Regions from separate parts of the Homo sapiens genome. Here all the other regions are linked to region 1. The links come from fine-mapping of genetic effects on gene expression. A gene starts in region 1. Each other region holds a variant in brackets. All regions are shown on one strand. Distances are from middle to middle. Region 1 holds the start of HIVEP1 (HIVEP zinc finger 1). Region 2 overlaps HIVEP1 (HIVEP zinc finger 1). Region 3 has its middle 52 kb from the start of TMEM170B. Region 4 has its middle 25 kb from the start of HIVEP1.

What was found. PIP is the estimated chance that this variant, and not a neighbour inherited with it, causes the effect. A credible set is the group of variants that fine-mapping cannot tell apart.
Region 2: its variant is the best candidate, but not a certain one, in a credible set for the expression of HIVEP1 in monocytes (TOPMed, PIP 0.62).
Region 3: its variant is the best candidate, but not a certain one, in a credible set for the expression of HIVEP1 in whole blood (TOPMed, PIP 0.58).
Region 4: its variant is the best candidate, but not a certain one, in a credible set for the expression of HIVEP1 in whole blood (INTERVAL, PIP 0.65).

What each region holds. Positions count from the first base shown.
Region 1 is chr6:12,009,293-12,014,446 of GRCh38, reverse strand. It overlaps HIVEP1 (HIVEP zinc finger 1), which reads right to left and starts at 2,135. Exons shown (of 9, transcript NM_002114.4): 1 at 1,881-2,135. RefSeq lists silencers at 1,981-2,120, 2,301-3,210 and an enhancer at 3,540-4,084.
Region 2 is chr6:12,049,627-12,054,780 of GRCh38, reverse strand. All of the region lies in intron 2 of HIVEP1 (HIVEP zinc finger 1), which reads right to left. Among named protein-coding and RNA genes, the nearest start is that of HIVEP1, 40 kb to the right of the region's middle. RefSeq lists enhancers at 2,506-2,585, 2,606-2,655, 2,686-2,955. The variant T/C (reference allele first, on the strand shown) is at 2,748.
Region 3 is chr6:11,587,078-11,592,231 of GRCh38, reverse strand. No RefSeq gene overlaps it. Among named protein-coding and RNA genes, the nearest start is that of TMEM170B, 52 kb to the right of the region's middle. The variant A/G (reference allele first, on the strand shown) is at 2,036.
Region 4 is chr6:11,984,833-11,989,986 of GRCh38, reverse strand. No RefSeq gene overlaps it. Among named protein-coding and RNA genes, the nearest start is that of HIVEP1, 25 kb to the left of the region's middle. The variant A/C (reference allele first, on the strand shown) is at 2,139.

The DNA of each region.
Region 1 (5,154 bases):
ACACATTCCCTAATTTAATCTGTTAACTAAGAAGGTAGCTATCATTTATTCATTTTACAGATTAAAAAAAAATTGGATAAGTAACTTGTCCAAGATAAACAACTAAAGAATGTGGTACTGCATGACTCAGTTATATCCAGTGCTTATTTTGTGGAGCTGATAACATCTACTTTCAGGATTTCTTTCAAGAGGCGCAGCAAGTCATGACGACTTATCTTGGTGTCAAACCGGAGTGGGTTCAAAGCCAGGCTTTACCCCTTACTGTGTGGCCTTGTTCAGGTTACTTAACCTCTCTGAAGATCAGATTTCCCAACTGTAAAATTAGGAAATATTATCCACATCAGAAGGTTGTTATAAGGACTAAACTAAACATTGTAGACGCTTTGCCTGTCACACAAAAACGCTGAACTATTAATTCTCCTTAAGAAAGCCTATATGGGAAGGAATGTGTCTAACATCCCAGTATAAGGTTTTAGAAATTTATGGTTTCATTACAGCAAAGAAACAGAAGGTAAAGAAGGCCACGATTAACTTCAGTATTTTATCCCTGATCTGGCTGTATGTCAGCTCAGCACAAAATTATTTGCAATTTTTAACTACATGGTAAAATAATACAAAAAAAAATGATGGTCTAAGTATTTCATCTAGCATTGTGCTAAGTGATCTATAAAAGATAGGGTTTCTCAGCTCCTTGCTCTAAAGAAACATCCACTATCTAATTCAGGAAGGTTCTGATTCAATAAAGAATTGAGACACAGCTGAACCAAATAAATTGCATGAATGCTTAACTACGTTCGTTGTTAAACTTAAAGCTTTTAAATGGTAACGATATTTGGAAGTTTTTAAAGCGTGAACTCTGACTGTAATCCAATCATGTGATCCCATGGGATCCGGAGCATAAATGTAAAATATGCACATTCCCTGTCCGTAAAGGCTTTCTGCTACCCCGTTCATTGCCTACCCACTGTCCCTAGCTGTCCATCCCATATTTAAATCCTTGTGGGGGGAAGTGGGTATTTCCAAAGACAGCAGCATTGTAGCGACTAGGACGAGTGATAAACCGTTCCTTTACGGGAAAGAAATAAATACTACATGGAGCAAAAACATGACACGATCAAAAAGCGTAAAGACAGTTGCAAGGAGAAAAAACATGAATGAATGTGGAGGGCGGAGCCTGGGAAAACCCCTCTGCAACGCTGCACTGAACAAAGCGCTTCGCATGCCAGGAGGAGGGGGGGAATGGAAGTGCCAGCTCAGGAAGGAGCCTGGAGTGGATGCAGAGAGCTGAGGAGGAGGAGGACGAGATGAGGCGAGCGCGGCAGCCCTGAGACTCCTCCTCGCCGCCTGCTCCGCCGCCGCCCCCTCCCCTCTCCAGCCAGCAACTCCTTCCCGAGCCCGACCCCAAGGCGAGCCCGAGCCGACCCGCACCCCAACCCACCGCCCCCTTCCCAACTGCAGCTGGCGCGCACTCCCAACCCGGAAAGAAACTACCCAGGTGGCCGGGAGTAAACAGGCACTTAGAGCAAAGAACGAAAGGGAAAGAAACCCACAAAGCCGGGAGGTTGGGATGCCGAGGCCTGGTCTCTTTCACCCCCCACCCTCTTGCAAAATGCGTCTGCGGCTGGAAGGCGGCTGGGGAGGCTGGGTCCCTCTGTACCTGCTCGGCTCGCGCGCGGCGAGGGCGCCCAGAAGTGCCAAGGGTCTCCCGCACGCAGCCATCCCCTCTGCAAGGTCGGCGGTTGCACACACACGCACACACACACACACACGCGCGCCCGCACGCCCCCCGCCCGCCGAAGGGATGTGCTCCTGCCCCCCCCCCCCTCCGCCCCGCCGCCCTCCCCAGCTGCAGCGCCCCCGCCGCGGAGCCCGCGCCGAACCTGCTGCCAGGACGCCCGGCGGAGCCGCTGCCGCTGCAGCCGGCCCTGGAGCTGCGCTGCTGATGGCGGCGGCCGCGGCTCGGGATCTCCGCGACCCCCGCGCGGCGGCGGCGGCGGCGCCTGGGATCCCTCCTTCACTTGACAACCCCAAACACAAACATAACCTCCTCCGGCGGCCGCCGCTCCCCGGTCCCCCGCTCCGTCCGCCACCCTGCCGCCGCCCAGCAGCCGCCACGCTGAAGGCCGGCGACTGGCGCTCACACCACCCAGCACTGAAATATTAAACAGGGGAGCGGGCCGGGGGGCGGGGGGGGGAGCGCGGGGCGCGCGGGCGGGGGCCGCAGCCGCCGGGCGGAGGAGGCGGCGAAGCTCGCCGGCGCCCGGAGCCACGGCATGATCGCGGCCGCCAGGGAGCCGGGCAGCCGGGCTGGGGGGCGCGCGCCGCGGCGGGGCGGGCGGACAGACCCTGGGGCCGCGGGGCCCGGGGCGGGAAGGACGGGCGCGGGCTTTACCTCTCCCCCGGGGCAGAGTAGGGCACGTTTAGCGTCTTTGGGGCCGGCGGGAGGAACGCGGGCCGGGCGGCGCGGGGGAGGCAGGGCGAAGGTCGGAGGCTTTCCCGCGGGTGGGCGGGGCGGCAGGGGATCCCCGGGGGCGGGAGGAGGGGAGGCCGCGGGCGGCGACGCGTGGGCGGGGGAGGGGGCGTCCCCGCGGGGGCTGGGGTTGAGGCCGGGGCGAGGGGCGCGGGACGCCCAGGCGCCGGGGCCCAGCTGGGCCGGCGCGGCCGCCAGCTCTGACCGGGTGTAGGGACTGGATGGGCGCCCGGCCCGGCACGAACCCGGAGCCAGTGCCCCGGGTCTCCCCGGCGGGGCGGGCCCCAGACCGCGCCGGCCCCGCCACCTACCCGCCGCTTCGCCCCTCCCCGCCCCGCCCGGCCGAGCCGCCGCAGGGACGGGAGGGGGACGCGGGAGGAGGTGGCAGCGCAGCCCGGGGGGGAGGGGCGGGGTTAGGGACGCGGGGGGCGGGAGCCCTGGGTCGCGACGCCTGGGGAACCAGCACACGGCGGGGGCGGAGGGGCGGGCCCGGCCAGTCACGCGGCCCCGGGAAGGCCTGGCGGGGTCGCTCAGTTGGGGGCGGTTGGTCCGGGAAGAGGGACGGGACGGGCGGGGCCGTAGTTTCTCTTTACCGTCTCTTTACTTTCTACAGCAGGATGTGGGCCGGCCGCTGACGTCATGGGGTCTCCCGGCCCCGCCCCTCGCCCGGGCAGAATGGGGGAGGGGGAGGCGGGGGGGGGGGGGGACCCCAAGGGGGTTTCCTCAGCAACGCGTAGAAGGAAGGGGAAAGTCATTGTGAAACTTAAAACTCATTAACTTTGAAAAACAACTTTTAAAAAAACGGAGGGGGCAGGGTGTTGGTTTGGAGAGTGGAAGGGGACATGTTAACCCTGAACTGAAACCACTTTTTGGTGGCGGATGTTCTATTAAAAGAGCGAGGAAAGCCAAGGTTATTCCAGAGGCCGCTCCAAAGCCCCGCTGGTGCTTCCCAGTGCCGAAGCTGCGAGCGCAATTAACCCCTGCCTGCCAGCCTGACAGCTTATAGGGCCAACCCGGGAGGGGACTTCGGGGACAGAAAAGGGGGGTGCGGGGCTGGTCGTCGGACCGGGCTCCAGGGAAGAGGGGAGAGCGTGAAAGGGGAAGAGGGAGTAATTAGCATGAACCAAGGTGTGACCCCGGCTGCTAGAAAGCAGTAGAGAAAGCAAGGAGTGGAAATCCATGGCAAAGCAGTGAAGAGGGGCTGGACCAGGGTAACGAAGGTTTTCAGGGTTAGACCTAAAGAACGTTCGCAGTTTGGGGCACAGAAATTCCACAGGTCCACCTCAAGAAGCAAAAGTGGCTGGTTTAACGGGCCACCTCAAACTTGAGAGGAATAAGGTGAAACAAAATTGATGCAAAAAAAAAAAAATCCCTGATGAAACTAAACTGGTTTCCCCTTTTAAGGAATAAAAATGCTAAACGACCATACAACCACTAAGACAGCTGGCCATCTGTGCAAACTTGAATTGTTTTGTTCCCTTGGGCTTCCATAACGACGTCTAGGTTTTTCCTGCTGGAGTTGACCCCTAAAATTCCCCTGAGGAAATCGTACCTCTGGCTCATTTGAGCTAAGAAAAGCTCAAACCACCAGAATGGGAATGATTAAAAATGGAATACTCAGTAATGGCGAGTGTGTAGCCAAAAATAATATCATGTAAAGGGAGAAATATGCCTACTACAAAGTAAATTTGGTTATAAAAGCAAAGATCATCCAACTGTGTACATGTACAATTATGTCTAGCATACTAATGCTAACCCTACGATGAAATAATGCAATTTTTATTTTCATTGTGCTATAACCATCTCTCATTTGTGAAATGAAATGATATCCAATAGGTTGCAATCACCAAAAAAGTATATAATGTAACTTCCCAACTGGGTTATTTGAATCCAAAAGTAAACATGCATTTAACTGTGAACGTATAGCTATTAATCTGTCAGGAGAAAGGTAATGTGATAATGAGTGAAGTTTGTATCACTTTGGAAGTGAAAAATGCTAACTGAATGAATAACGTTTAACCCAATAATTGTTGAGCACAACATACTGTCAACACAATGTTTATGTAGGATTCAGCATTACTACGAACTTTCTAACAAAACATACATGCAATTTCGAATTACGATAGGTAAATTTTGACATTTCAACTATTTCCTTGAGCAGCAAACCGATATTAAACTTTTATTTGAAATATATACAATACAGAATAGTTTCCTAGTAAGTTTTTGAATTTTCTAAATGCAGTTTCTTTTCCTAATTCTGCCTACAATTCTTCCCAGATATCAGGATGCAGGGAAACCTGGCTATACTATAAAGTAGCTTCTTTAGGCTTGTTTTGTGGCAAATCCAATATATTTTCTCAAAATGTATCAAATAAACACAGCGTGGGAAAAAAATGAAGCAGAGGGTGAATGTGGAGGATGAATGTGAATGGTAAACTGCAGTTTCAACTGTCAAAAATCCTGGGACAATGCAGGAGCAAGTGACCATTCTCTGCCCCCAAAAAAGAGGGGGCTCCTGGAGGTCCATTTCTCTATGGTTCCATCCCCACCGTCCGCGTGAACGCTTCTGGAGCCCCCCTTGGGGAAAGTGGGGTTCGAGGGAGGATAGTGTCACTGAAAAGCTCAACACACGTTTTTCTTGGCGAACAGTTTGGAGAGGGCACAAAGTCCACCCCGGAGCCGCG
Region 2 (5,154 bases), 40 kb before region 1:
ACATCAAATAATATGCTATGTCATGAAATCATGTATGTTAATCAGAAAAGTGAAAAAAGAGGTTCCACGATAACCAAATAAAATGGAAACAAACTAATAACAGCAAAAAAAGTTCATTATGGTGAAGTCATGTGATACAATATTATGCAGTCATTTGAAACTGATGTTTATAGGGAATTTTAATGACACCGAAAAATACTAGTAATAGATAATATTAAGGGGAGCATCCCAAAAGATATACTGTATGATGCCAACTGTGCTTTAAAATTCATGTGTAGTTATATATTCATATGTATATGTGTGTAAATGTGCATGTATATATAGTCTAGATACATATGTAGGTATATGCATATATATCCATATGTATACATATAAATGAAAGATATCAAATTGTTAATAGTAGTTATTTCTGGATGGTACAGTTATGAGTGACTATAACTTCTGTATGTGGATCTTCCAAATTTTCTGAAACAAACATATAGTGTATGTTTTCTTGTAAATATACCTATAGACTATATACTGTTTTTCATACCATAGTTTCCACAGCATAAACCTTGGTATCAATCCAATTATTTGCAGAGTCATCAGGCAAATGAGTGAATCAAATGTAATAATCCCAAATATCTTGAGTTGGCATCACAATTGACAGATTAAAGTAAATAAACACAGAGTGGGCATGTTTTATATGTTGCTGAGAGTTATGGGCAATGCGAGCCTGAAAGCTATTAGCTTTCAAATATGACAGACTATTTGAAATGGAGAAGGGAAAGATAACCTACGTTTCTGATACTAACAAGTTGTAGCTCACATTTCCACATGGAGAAGGATCAAATGTACGTTCCCTTTCTGTTATCCTATTTGTCATATTCTTTATTGAAAAAAATAATGACCTTAAGTAAAAGATACGTTATGTACCAAGATGTTCATCCTATTTATTCTGGAAAAGGGCTGAAAGCCACCATATAACAGAGCTTGGCAGATTTATCTCTAGGGTTCTCTTGTCAATTTCTGTTTTGTGGGGGAAGGGGTTTGCTATGATTGAGAAAGGAAAATTAATGTTTTCTTTTCTCTCCAAATATATCCTAGCTTAAGCAGTACACAGCCCCCAACAGAGCATCCCCCTATCCCACCTCCACTTTGGTTTCAGTCAAGACATGGAATCAATTCTGCCCTTACCTAGGGCTATGGACTCAGAACTCCCCCACACCATCTCCACAGGGCCTCAGAATATTTCTATTAGTCTTTTGCCCCTTAAGACTCACAGGTACCTATTTATGTTTTTTTTGTCATATCCTAAAATTTTAGTTAATTTATAATTAATGGTGTTTTCTTATAATAATTTTCCATGGCTTATAATACATTTCTATACTGCTTCTCTTATTTGTATCCTTGGTAAACTTTATCTTCTAACTTGACTAGAAAAAAATCCCACTCTTCTTTTAAACAAACCACAAATTGACAGTCAGGACATCTCAATGTTTAAAGAACAGCAAATAAAATTTGGCTATATATGCCACAAAATATCCCTACACACACACAGACACACACACACACATGAACAGCATATTGGGAAATATTTATAATAATTTTATACCTTGTCTACTGCAAATCTTTATAATGAACACCATATACTATGGACATGTGTTATATTTTCCCCAAAACAGATGTAAATTAAAGCAGCTGCTCAGAAAGTCTTCCGATCTTGAAGAAAATTATAGCTGTGAAGTGTAAAGGCAAATACTCCAATTACAGGAACTACACAGCTTTGCAATAATGACAATCAAATTATTTTAAAAACTGTGATGAGAATCCCCGCCCAACCCCAAGAAATTACTTTCTGAGCATTTGCTACAAGTCTCCAAAAGATAGCATTTCCTAACCATTTTAGCCTGCATTTTTAAAGCACAGGAATGATTGTTTTATCAATTAAAATTTCTAGTTTACAGATGGTTACCTAGTCTTAATCTGGTGAAATTAGAACCTCAGACTTCATTTTAAGACAAGAAAAGAAAGTAAATTGTGGTAACAAGGTACACTGGGAACAGTAAGAATTTGTTTTCAGACAAAACTGAGGCTCAATTCCTAGTTTGGCCATTTACTAGGTACATGATACAAGGCAAGAGACTCCAACTCTCCAAGTCTCAGCCTCTTTCATAACAAAAAATTAAATAGTGCTATCTGCCTCATAAGATAGTTTTAATTCCTGAAAGAGATGACTGATGGAACACACCAGACACAGAGTAGATACTCAATGTATGTTAGCTCTTGTACCCTTCTTCACAAATACTACAAAATTTTCCAAACTGACCAAATAACTTTACACACATAAGGTTCGGACACTATTGTAACAGTTTCATGTACTATTGGAGGTATATTTAGAACATTAATTTTTTAAATGATGTTTAAGAAAGTTAAAATGTATTAATAAAAACCCTCAGATATTCCATCATGCTCTACAAAGCTATCTCTAGGTGGCCCTCTAAGTGGCTTACTTTGGGTGGTTCCAGTAAGATGCATTTCATTATTTAGATGTCTCCTTGTTGAGTAAATATAAGGTGAAGTAAAAGAATCAATACATTCATCATCTGCCTGTATACATATGCCGTGGTCTTGATTCCGTAAGAAGACATGTCTTTATTCATCTAAAGCCATGTACAAATGGAAGTAGAATTTCCAAAGACTGCTTTTAAAATTAAAGGCATGTTTCACAAGTTAGCAAAAGCCGTGCAGCCTCTTAGATCTCTGTA[T/C]TGGCTAACCACACACCACGACATGCTATCCTCAGTTGGAAAGTCCCCCCACACAGTATGTAAACTCATTTTGAAACTGGAGAGAACAGTTCCTCCTATAACTCATCTGGGCAAGTTTATATAAAAGAATAATTTTTCAGAAAGCCACAGAGGTTCTCTCCCAAGATTGCTGAAGTATAATTATGGACAAGTGTAAATATGGAAAGAGAAGCTGACTAAAAGTAAAAAGCACAGTGAATAAGCGTTTATAAAGATTTATATAAAAAGAAACAAAAACAAATAAAAACTTCAGCCCACCTAATAAAGTAATTTTAGTAATACCCATTCATGTACCACCCTCCCCACCACCTCCCTTCCCGAGAAACAAAAAAAATGGTTAGACTGCATGTTAACATGTAAAGATACCTGTATCTATTTATATTTTATCTATATATTATATTTAATTAGGGTGAAATAATAAAATGCACTAATTATATAGTATTTACATACATACACTATGTATACACACACATAGTAAAGGCAAAAATGGAAAGATAAAACATAATATTCTTAAATGGTTACTTACTGGAGGGGAGAAGGCAGAGATAGAAGATGGACTTTTTTGACAGTATCTTGTTTTCTAGATGCTACTTTGGAGTCATGTAAATATTTTCTGTGATTGTAAAACAAAAATTTTAAATAAAAACTCCTAAAAATCAAAAATAAAATGTGACAAATGAACCCTGCATTTATAAGGTGGTAGCATAACCACACAGAGAAGAATGACTGACAGTGAAATACATTAATCCTATATCCGTAGTGGGACATAAACTAATGACAAAAGAAAAATGGTGGTATTGGTGCTGGCATTAGTAGTCTGAACTGCTGTGTATATCAAAGCAAGTAAGTAATTCTGCCATTCCAGGAGTACAAGCATTCTCGCTGTGAGAGAAAGGAGACAGAAGTATAAGATCCAAGAGGTGAAGTAAAAACCCTGTCGTCCTGATATTTATTTTAATATACATATATATATATATATATATATATATATATGCACTTGTGTATCTGCTACACACATGCACTCAGCGTCCACTGAACAGGCCTGGAAGCAACGGCCAACCCAGTAGCAATGAGCATGCCTAGCGCCTGGCCTGTGGTTCCCCGATACCATTTCCCACCACTTCTACCTTCATCAATAGAACATTTCAATAGGTGGAGATTAAGACCCCCCAAAAGTAGGAGCAAAGACTTGGAAGCAGGAAAGGCCTACTTAGGATGAGCAAATGGCCCACCAGGCCAAGGGCTAGAAAGCAAGGGCATCTACAGTGAGACTGTCTGGAGGGGCCTGACAGGGCCCGACTGCGAGAGCTAATCTTGAAAGCAAAGAAAGATGTTTATGATTCTTGAGGAGAGGATGGGAGTCGCCCAGCTGGACCCATGGTGTTTAATTTTTTTATTTTTTTTTTTTTGAGACGGAGTCTCTCTCTGTCGCCCAGGCTGGAGTGTAGTGGCGTGATCTCGGCTCACTGCAAGCTCCGCCTCCCGGGTTCACGCCATTCTCCTGCCTCAGCCTCCCGAGTAACTGGGACTACAGGTGCCTGCCACTACGCCCGGCTAGTGTTTTTGAATTTTTAGTAGAGACAGGGTTTCACCGTGTTAGCCAGGATGGTCTCGATCTCCTGACCTCATGATCCGCCCGTCTTGGCCTTCCAAAGTGCTGGGATTACAGGCGTGAGCCAGCGCACCCGGCCGATGGTGTTTAATTTTTACAGTGCCCATGTGTGGCAGGCATGAACTCTCGTTATTCACAGATGAGGATGCTAAGGCTTATCTGGCAAGTAGAGAGCATGTGGAACAGTCCCAATTCTAAACCCAATCGCGGTTTACTAATACAGGCTTGTTTCCACTGGGCTGGCGGAGTAGGTGCCTGGCATTTAGGGCAGTTAATGGTGTCAGTGTAAGAACAAGTTAGAGAGTCATGGACAAAGCTGATCAGATAGGAGGCTTTGTCTTTCTTAGGAGCAACAGGGGCAGACTCTGAGCACCTCCGGATATATATGCTCCAGAGAGCCCATATCATCGCCAGCAACACCCCAGAAAGTGACATTCATTTGGTGAATACCTTGTAATTTTTCATCTTCATTTTAATGTTACAAACCAGTTCATCAAATTCTAACAGTTACATCAAAAAGGAAGAAAAATTTCACAACAAAAATATTCCCTCATTACATAATAAAAATTGTTGAAATCCCAAATAGAGCATACGAGAAAAAGGAAGTTTAATAAAAACTACTCAAGTGTGCCATGAAAGTATAAGCTTATTAGTGGAAATCCACAAATTTGTTTTTAAATAAGTTTGAGTCATCTGTAAATCATCCCTCCATCTTTCTTTCTACATATAAATAGCATTTATTATCTGAGCAAGCAG
Region 3 (5,154 bases), 420 kb after region 1:
GCGCACCTGTAGTCCCAACTACTCGGGAGGCTGAGGCAGGAAAATCGCTTGAACTTGGGAGGCAGAGGTCGCAGTGTGCTGAGATCGTGCCACTGCACTCCAGCCTGGGCTCAAAACAAAAATAGAAAAACTTAGATGTCAAAACCTAGCTCAGGTGTAGTGTGATGGGCCAGAGACCTTTGGGATGGGGACCAGGAAGAACTTTAAAAATATGCTTGCAAGCGCTTCCTGGAAGACCACAGAATCAACTAGGGACATTCCTCCTACTGATGTTGATTTGTTAAAAGAGTATTTATGGAAATTAAACAGAGCCAAATAGGATTATAACTCAGAGCTTTCCATGGTCTTCAATATACACGTGGGAATTGTGAATCTCTAAGACAGGAATACAGAAGGCAAGTTTTATCCAGCTTATTTGAATTCCTTGGCCAGGGAATTCTTTCTCTTAAGAGCCTCTCCCGGGTGCCGGGCGTGGAGGCTCACGCCTGTAATCCCAGCACTTTGGGAGGCCGAGGCGGGCAGATCACGAGGTCAGGAGATCGAGACCATCCTTGCTAACACGGTGAAACCCCATCTCTACTAAAAATACAAAAAAAATTAGCCGGGCGTGGCGGCGGGCCCCTGTAGTCCCAGCTACTCTAGAGGCTGAGGCAGGAGAATGGCGTGAACCCGGGAGGCGGAGCTTACGGTGAGCGGAGATCGCGCCACTGCACTCCAGCCTGGGCGACAGGTGACAGAGCATGACTCTGTCTCAAAAAAAAAAAAAAAAAAGAGCCTCTCCCAGTTAGTGTTCTTTAGAACAGGGGTCCTCAACCCCCAGGCTGCAGACAGGTACCATTCTGTTACCTGTTAAGAACCAGGCCGCACAGGCCGGGCGTGGTGGCTCACACCTGTAATCCCAGCACTTTGGGAGGCCGAGACGGGCGGATCACGAGGTCAGGAGATCGAGACCATCCTGGCTAACACGGTGAAACCCCATCTCTACTAAAAATACAAAAAATTAGCCGGGCATGGGTGGTGGGCGCCTGTAGTCCCAGCTACTCGGGAGGCTGAGGCAGGAGAATGGCCTGAACCCGGGAGGTGGAGCTTGCAGTGAGCAGAGATGGCGCCACCGCACTCCAGCCTGGGCGACAGAGCGAGACTCCGTCTCAAAAAAAAAAAAAAAAAAAAAAAAAGAACGAGGCCGCACAGCAGGAGGTGAATGGCGGGCCAGCGAGCGCTACACCCTGAGCTCCACTTCATGTCAGATTAGTGGCGGCATTAGAGTCTCGCAGGAGAGCGCAAGCCCTGTTGTGAACTGCGGATGCGAGGGATCTAGACTGTGTGCTCCTTGTAAGAATCTAATGCCTGATGATCTGAGATGGAAGAGTTTCATCTTGAAACCACACCCCACTCGGTGGAAAAATTGTCTTCCACAAAACCAGTTCCTCCTGCCAAAAACGTTGGGGACCGCTGCTTTAGAACACTCTTAATAAATGCTATTTACATTTAGTCTGACCCATTTGTCATTGTGGCTAACAAAGTGGGAAGATTGGAAAATTTGAGAGAGAGGAGAGAGAGAGATCAGGCTTTATTTTACCAAATTTATTACTGTATTAAAAGCTAGAATTTTTGATAGTTTTGAACAAAAGCTGTTACGAATACCAGACTGGATTAGTAACAGCCAAGATAATCATAGGATTCTTTGAGATGTGCATCATAAAACTGGAATCCTACCAAATGATCTGAGGCATTTCTCAAGTTGATGTCTGATACTTTCCAGAATTAAAAATGCTGAATGGATATGTAAGAATAAACCAATTCTTAGTTATTTTCAGCCTGATCGTCCTCATTTTCTCTTATGAAAAAGCCCTGCTTTCATGACAGAACCTATTTCAAGGGCTTATTTTGTTAACTTTTGGGACAGTTCTTTAAAGAAACACACACACACACACATTATCTACATTATTCCTGTCTTAATTCTCCACCTACACCACATGTGAAGAAATCCTTTGACACTTGACCACCTCTGCCCCCTTCCAGAGATGGTAAAGAC[A/G]AAGTTGCATACATTTCAGATAGAAATGCTTTAAAATAGAAAGTGACGCTTGTAAAGTGATACAAGTTTCAACATCAAACAAAAATTATTTTGGGGATATTTGCCAATTTATCTCTACCTCTTGTCTCTTCCATTGTGAAGGTGACATAAGGTTGAGCTAGTCTTTATTTATGGACATGATTTTAATCTAACTTTTGGTTCAATCTTTTCAAATAGTTTCCCCAATACAGTCTCTAACATCACACAAACAGATTCCTGATGTCATGAGTAGGGGTGTTTTGACCTAATCCTGATTCGGAGGTTAATCAGCACACTGTTCATTTTTCCCATCACAACCAACAAAACTACTCCGGATATACTTCAGACTCCAGTCTACAGCAGTCTCGAAAACACAGCTTCCCATATCAATAATCCCAAAAGTACTGTTTTCTTTCATCCTTTTTGAACTCAAAATGTCCAGCGGGCCTTCATATTTTGCTTTGATTTGGCAACTTTTCCTGTCCAGATAATTGGTGGTGTGCATTGAACTAGTTAAGGTGGAACAAGAGTCTGAGAAGCATGCTGCTTTATTTGTGACAGAAATAGTCTGCTTAGTTAAAGTAAAAGTTGAAAAATATTAATGAAGCATTGTGGCAGTTGTATCCTATCAGCATTCGAGTGACCTGGGTGTGTAACTCTTATGACTGAAGAGCTCCCTCACAAGGTATTCCTGATGGAAGCAAACGGGACTTAACCCCTCAATAAGATCTCAAGTGAACATTTGGGCCTTTGTACGTCCTGTCTCTTAAAAGTCATAAGCCAAAGCCTTGTGGCAGGAAAATGAGCTAGTCATGGGTTACCCAGGAAGTGACCAGTTTCCAAGGGGATCCCTTTGGGCCTCTAGGGATTACCTGAGTCCAGGCAATTAGGCTGCTATGGCCACCTCTGTTCTGCTCTTCACATGCACATCTGTTCAAACAGCTGTCCAGGTCCCATAAGAGACCTTTGTTTAACCAAGTAAATGGCTTTCTTCATTTATTAAAAGCATTTTACCTTTCCCTCAAATAAGAACAGATTGTGAGGACAAAATGACATTATAGATGTGAAAATGGTTTGAGAGTAAAAGTTGAATTCCAACATTATTACAATGATGACCCTATCAGTAATATAGGCTTTACATATATCCTCCAGGCACTTGTAAAAAATGAAAAACAGGCCAGGCACAGTGGCCCATGCCTGTAATCCCAGCACTTTGGGAGGCCGAGGCAGGTGGATCACCTGAGGTCAGGAGTTTGAGACCAGCCTGGCCAACACGGTGAAACCCCATCTCTACTAAAAACACAAAAATTGGCCAGGCATGGTGGTGGGCACCTGTAATCCCAGCTACTTGGGAGGCTGAGGCAGGAGAATCACTTGAACCTGGGAGGCAGAGGTTGCAGTGAGCCAAGATCGCGCCATTGCATTCCAGCCTGGGCAACAAGAGCGAAACTCTGTCTTAAAAAAAAAAAAGCCAGAAGTTATGTGAAAAGCTGAATTTAGATCAAGACACTGTGTGTGTATATATTCTTGCATGTGCATATATGAACACATATGTTTGTGTATGATGTTGGCCAAGACATGTAACCTGTATGCCTCAGTTTCTGGATCAGCAAAATTGGAATAATACCTCTGCCTTGTTGAATTGCAAAAAAGGGAAAAAAAACAGAAGTTAGAGTTTAGATTTGAAATTTTCTTCCCTTCTCATTCACCTTGCAAAAAATCCTCCAAGTTAAACAAGTTTCAAATGAATCTGGACGTAGACTAAGGCTCAGAACTACATGGACATGTTAAGTGTCAAACGCTTGGAGCCAAACTGGTCCTGGCCTAGGAAAGTCTGAGAATAACAGGTCTATACTGATGCTGTCCTGTTAAAAGTTTCAACTTGCATTTACGAGAAAGCAAAAAGAGTTGATGTGTTTTCAGGTTTACTGAAGAAGAAATTGGCATAGAGAGATTAAGTCTAATGTGAGGTCTCATGGGCACAAAGGGTCAGAACCTGGGAGAAGACCCAGGTCTCATATCATCCCCTCTCAGGTAACATGCACAGGGCTTTCAAAAGTCACGAGTCTCAAGAAATAGAAATGCTTTTACGCTATTGATGGGAATGTAAATTAGTTCCACCATTGTGGAAGACAGTGTGGTGATTCCTCAAGGATCTAGAACCAGAAATACCATTTGACCCAGCAATCCCAATACTGGGTATATATCCAAAGAAATATAAATCATTCTACTATAAAGACACATGCACATATGTTTACTGCAGCACTATTTACAATAGCAAAGACATGGAACCAACCCAAATGCCCATCAATGATAGACTGGATAAAGAAAATGTGGTACATATACACCATGGAATACTATGCAGCCATAAAAAGGAATGAGATCATGTCCTTTGCAGGGACATGATGAAGCTGGAAGCCATCACCCACAGCAAAGTAACACAGGAACAGAAACCCAAACACCACATGTTCTCACTCATAAGTGGGAGTTGAATAATGAGAACACATGGACACAGGGAGGGGAACGACATACACCAGGACCTGCTGGTGGGTGGGGGGCAAGGGAAGGGAATCTAGAGGATGAATAAATAGGTGCAGCAAACCACCATGGCACACGTATACCTATGTAACAAACATGCACGTTCTGCACATGTATCCCGGAACTTAAAGAAAAAAAAAAGTCATGAGTCTCTCAAAATTGTAGTTTCCTCAACCCTACATCTCCCACTCATCTCTGTACCTTCTCCTATTTTCCACATCAAAGATAGCACAAGCATCTTCTTTTAACACATTTTGGAGTCACCCACCAACACCAATTCCCACGAAAAGTAAGCCAAGTGTAGTTTTATGAAAATCTGTTTGGTCCTCTTTTTTTTTTCTTTTTTGGCAACAGAGTCTCACTCTGTTGCCCAGGCTGGAGTGCAGTGGTACCATCTCGGCTTACTGCAACTTCCATCTCCCGGGTTCAAGCGATTCTCCTTCCTCAGCCTCCCAAGTAGCTGGGATTACATGTGCCCGCCAACATGCCCGGCTAATTTTTTTGTATTTTTAATAGAGAGGGTGTCTCACCATGTTGGCCAAGCTGGTCTCGACCTCCTGACC
Region 4 (5,154 bases), 24 kb after region 1:
TAAAATAAATAAATAAATGAAATAGGCTCCATCTCCTTCCACCCCTCAGTGGAGTCTCTTCTTATTCAAACTCTGCCTTTCCTTGACGATCAGATGATGCCCCTTGGCTGAAGCATTGCCTGATCTCACTCTCCTCAGAATTCCTGTGAAATTTTATTCACACTTTCAGTGGTTAAGTGGTTAAATACAAATTCTAATCTTTTGCCATTTATAAAGCACCTAAAACATCATGATGTATTATGTGTAAAAATGTAAAAATGAGTAAAATATGCCAGGTGAAACTTAATTTAAGGAATGCTGGTTGGCAAGAAAAAAGGAAGTACTGATAAATGCTACAAGGTGGACATATTTCAAAAATATTGTGCTCAGTGAAAGAAGCCAAGCATACATGTTGTATGAGCTCATTTATATGAAATGTCCAAAGGAAAAAGGCAGATAATAAGAGACAGAAACTGCATTACTCATTGTCTATGGCTGACGATGGAATGGAGAGTGATGGTGTGAAGTTTCTTCTTAGGATGATGGAAATGTTTTAAAATTGGATTCTGTTGATGGTTGCACAACTCCGTAAATATAGTAAAATTTATTAAATTGTACACTTAACACAGTTGAGTTTTATGATATGTAAATTATATCACAACAAAACAGTTTTTGAAAACATCGGTTTAAGATGATAAAGATAAAATGGGACCCAAATAGATTATTCTCTACTGGTATAATAAAACTTTGAAAGTCATAAACTGTTATATGCCAAGTAGCATTGCTTGAAATATACACATTTAAAAATTAGAAAAATTCACCTTCAGAGAAAATTACGGAATTCATATCTATAGCATGATTCCTTTTTTTAAAAAAAAACCTCAATATTCGTTTGTATGTATCTGTTAAAAGACAACATTAAGTTAATACTTCAGGAGGAAAGAACTGGAGGGGGCTGCCTGGGCAAAGATGTTAAAATTTTCTATCATCTCTTATTTAACTTTTACAATGAGCTTATTACTGTAGTAATTAAAATAAAATCCTCATCAACTCAGTCTTTGAGTTGAGCCAAGCAAAACATCAAGCAGGCAGTAACAGAAACATGAATGTGAAAGATCGAATAGTAAAATTAGTACTGATGGTTAATGGACATGAAGAAAAACTTCGTTCCTTGGAGAGACCTACTTTCCTGGCACCTGCAGAATCACTGATTATTTACATCGGTTATGCACATCGGGCCACCAGCTCTGATCTGTCAGAGAGAAGCCCTGAGCCTGTGAGCCAATGCGCTTTCCCTCCAGCTGCATACCAGATAGGGCATGCCTCAAAAAGATGTCCATCCTGCGGGTGCAAAATAAAAATAAAATAAAACGACGGTTTTTATCATTAGTTTCCAACGTTTTTGAGCAGGCGTTTTTGGAGAGGTCCTATGTTTCCAGAACATCCATTTGAGAACATGCGTTGTGGAATGTGCCCCCTCCAAGGCCAGGTCACTCAGCGGCAGTTACAGCTGGGCAGGCGCCTTTAGGAGGTGGGTGAGATGGCTGACTAGTACCATCAGTTCTATCACACGAGTTACCAATATTTTACCGCCCCTCCGTCCCCCACCGGCTTTGAAGCAAAACGGAACAGCCGGGCACGCACAGGGAGGATGTCTGTGCCGCTGTTGTTCTAGGTTTGTCAGCCGGGGCGGCCAGCAAGGAATCCAGGGGCTGACTTGTCCTGCTCCAAGAAGCAAAAGAGCCCACACCATTGCTGACTGTGGTACTGTGAATTTTGTTATCTTCACTGCCTTCCAGAATGGACCTTTTCTTTGAGAGTGGCCTCAATAAATCATAGTGAAGCTAATGTGATGTTGGTTATGAGTTGTTGTTGTTAAGAATTATGCCACTCTTAAGGCTAGTGAGGAAGAACTAGAGATTAAATTCGGAAACCAGGACCCATCCAGAGAACCCATGACAGCCTATTTCAGAGGAAAATTTTTCAGAGAGAAATTGTAATACACTTCCCAAAGCAGAAGTGGTATAGAAAATTTTTTAAGACCACAATGCTATAAATGCAATCAAAGATTTTAAATTGGAAAAAACACTCCAAAACTGTTCTTTCTTCCCCAAATCCAACTATTTGAAAATATCAAGACATCCTCCTAAATAAGACTT[A/C]AGTCAAAAAAGGAATCAAATATGCTGTTACGGATTTAAACATTATTAATATATTCAGACATCGGCATAAGGAAAACATTTCTTATCAATATAACAAAAGCTATATTCTGAGAAAGAAAATCATTTTAAGATGTTGGTCAAAGGATACAAAGTTTCAATTGGGCAGGATGAATAAACTTGGGAGGTCTAAGTTTACAAATGCCGTGGCAGCATCAGGAAGTTATCCTATATTGTCTGAAAAGGGAAGGCATGAATAATCTGCTGCTTGTTTAGTATATCATCAAGCATTAACCACAAAAATGGGCAACCAGTAGCCCTCAGGACTGCCCTGCCTATGAAGTAGTCATTATTTTATTCCTTTACTTACTTAATAAACATGCCTTCACTTAAAAAAATAAAAGTTTGCGAGATCTAGTATTGTATAGCATGGTGACTATAGTTAATAAAAGTGTATTGTATATTTAAATATTGCTAAGAGAGTAGATCTTTATTCTCACCACAAAAAATAACTATTGGATATATTCAATAGATTGATTTAAACATTTCACAATGTACTTATATATCAAAACATTACTTACATTGTACACCATAAATATAATATATACAATATGTATTTGTCAATTATACCTTAACCAAAAAAAAAAAAAACCTAGTGTTTAACTCAAGAAGCTGATATCACATGAAAATAAATCTAAGAAAAGGAAGAGGAAATAATTATTAGGTGTAAAAGTGTAATAATAAATTAGAAGGATAGAAAAAGTGATAAATACAAAAGACTATTACTTACACAGTCCAATAAAATTAATAAATATTTACCAAGGGCCGGGGATGGTGGCTCATGCCTGTAATCCCAGCACTTTGGGAGGCAAGGTGGGCGGATCACGAGGTTAAGAGATTGAGACCATCCTGGCCAACATGGAGAAACCCTGTCTCTACTAAAAACACAAAAATTAGCTGGGTGTGGTGGTACATGCCTGTAGTCCCAGCTACTCAGGAGGCTGAGGAAGGAGAATCACTTGAACCCCAGAGGCGGAGGTTGCAGTGAGCCGAGATCACGCCACCGCACTCCGGCCTGGCGACAGAGTGAGACTCCGTCTCAAAAAAAAAAAAAAAAAAAAAATCTACCAAGTTTGATTAAGAAAACCAAAACGAAACCATAAAGACCTAAAATTAGGAACGATAATGTTGAACCACAGATTAAAAGGAAATTTAATAGGAATGTAGAAGACAGTATTCTCTCAGTTTTTTTTTCTGAAATGATGTTGATGTATCCTAAGGGATGATCTATGCCAGAATGGTATGCAAATAAAATATTGGGACACTTATTTTTATGTTGTTATTATTTTAAAAATGGAAAATAATCTGTCCAGATACTGCAACTACTGTTTCACAGTGGACCCCTGCTCAGTTCCTAGGTCAGGCCTGTGTTCTCCTTGGTAGAGGAGGGAAGGGGAGGGTTTCACTATCCTAAGGAGTTGGTGTTTATGCTTTTGGTTCTTTAGTTTGTTGGGACACATATACTTAGCTAAATAGAGTGCAGAATAAATTATTTAAAATAATAGAATGTTTAAAATTAGGCAGGCATGGTGGCACACACCTGTAATCCTAGCTACCTGGGAAGCTGAGGCAGGAGAATTGCTTGAAGCCAGGAGGCAGAGGTTGCAGTGAGCCAAGATCACACCACTGCACTCCAGCCTGGGCCACAGAGCGAGACTCCATCTCAAAAAAAAAAAAAAAAAAAAAAAAAAAAGAATGAAAGAAAGAAAAAGAATGTTTACAATTTCCTGAAATGAGATGAGGAATTATCATGAATACATGAATATATTTTCCATGGAGATTCCCTAGCTGTGTTTTGTCAAACTATTTAAAAGAATGTTTTTCCCCCTGGACAAATGATCTTCAAACTGGGCTAAATAGAGACTCTAAAAAGGTATACAATGTGGGTAGTTTAAAGGTCTCAATATACACGGCACAACTTTGGTATATACTCTTCCCTTCTATAAAGTGGGCTCTCTTTTTCCTTAGCTCATCTTTCAAAGTAAAACTTTTCCCATTTTAAAAAAGAAAGTTGAATTTGTCAGGATGTTGTGGGAAACCATCCACTCCAGAATGTCACTGTTTCTCTTTACAATGCATTCCCTTGGCCCCACAGAGCCTGGCAGACAGAGAGCCTGGAAAGGTTCAGTGAACAGCATCACTGATCATCATGAAAGATTTACCTCTCACCGCTCCGAGATTTTACCATAGTGGTATCTGGCCCCTTAATGTGAGGTGCCGCCAGAGAACCAAACCAAGGGACTTCTGAAAATATTGTTTTCTTGGAGCCTTCCTTTTATAATTAATCCACGGATCAATAAAAGTCCACAAGTTTTCTAGTATTTCACTCTCTTCTACATATTTCTTTTTAAAGATATAGAGGTGTATTGGAAGCAGAGTCTTTTGCCCTTGGTGGATCATCCTGAAACCTGACATTTCCGAGAGGGGAAGGAATGACAGTTATCTTTTACCACCTCTTCTTTTACTTCTCAAAAGGATTGGCAAAAAGTGCATTGCTCTCCAAGGGAGAGTTTGCACCCGCAAAGCAAAGGGAGCATTGGTAAAACACACTGATGCCAAAAATGACTGTCTTTTTTTCTCATTTAAATGTAAGCAGTTTTCTTCAGCTACTTTCAATTCTCCTCCCAAGGATGTGACATTGACTGGGAAGAAAAACATCTTCAAGGAACAAGCAGTGGAGATTGGTGATACCATTTGCTTTAAAAGTAACTGGGGTCCAAATGTTTCAAATGATAGCAATTTTTTTTTTAGATTTGGAATGTATTATTCAATTATTGGTTAACATATATTTTATCAAGTCAGATCTTAAAAATATCTTGTTCATTTTCTAAATTGTTTACATTTTCCACCTATTATTAAATATTTTATGTTATGTAATAGCTGCTAGAATAGTTATTTTTTAGCAGTGTATAGAACCTTTCATTGATTACAGAAAATGTTTGCTAATAATGCAAACAAA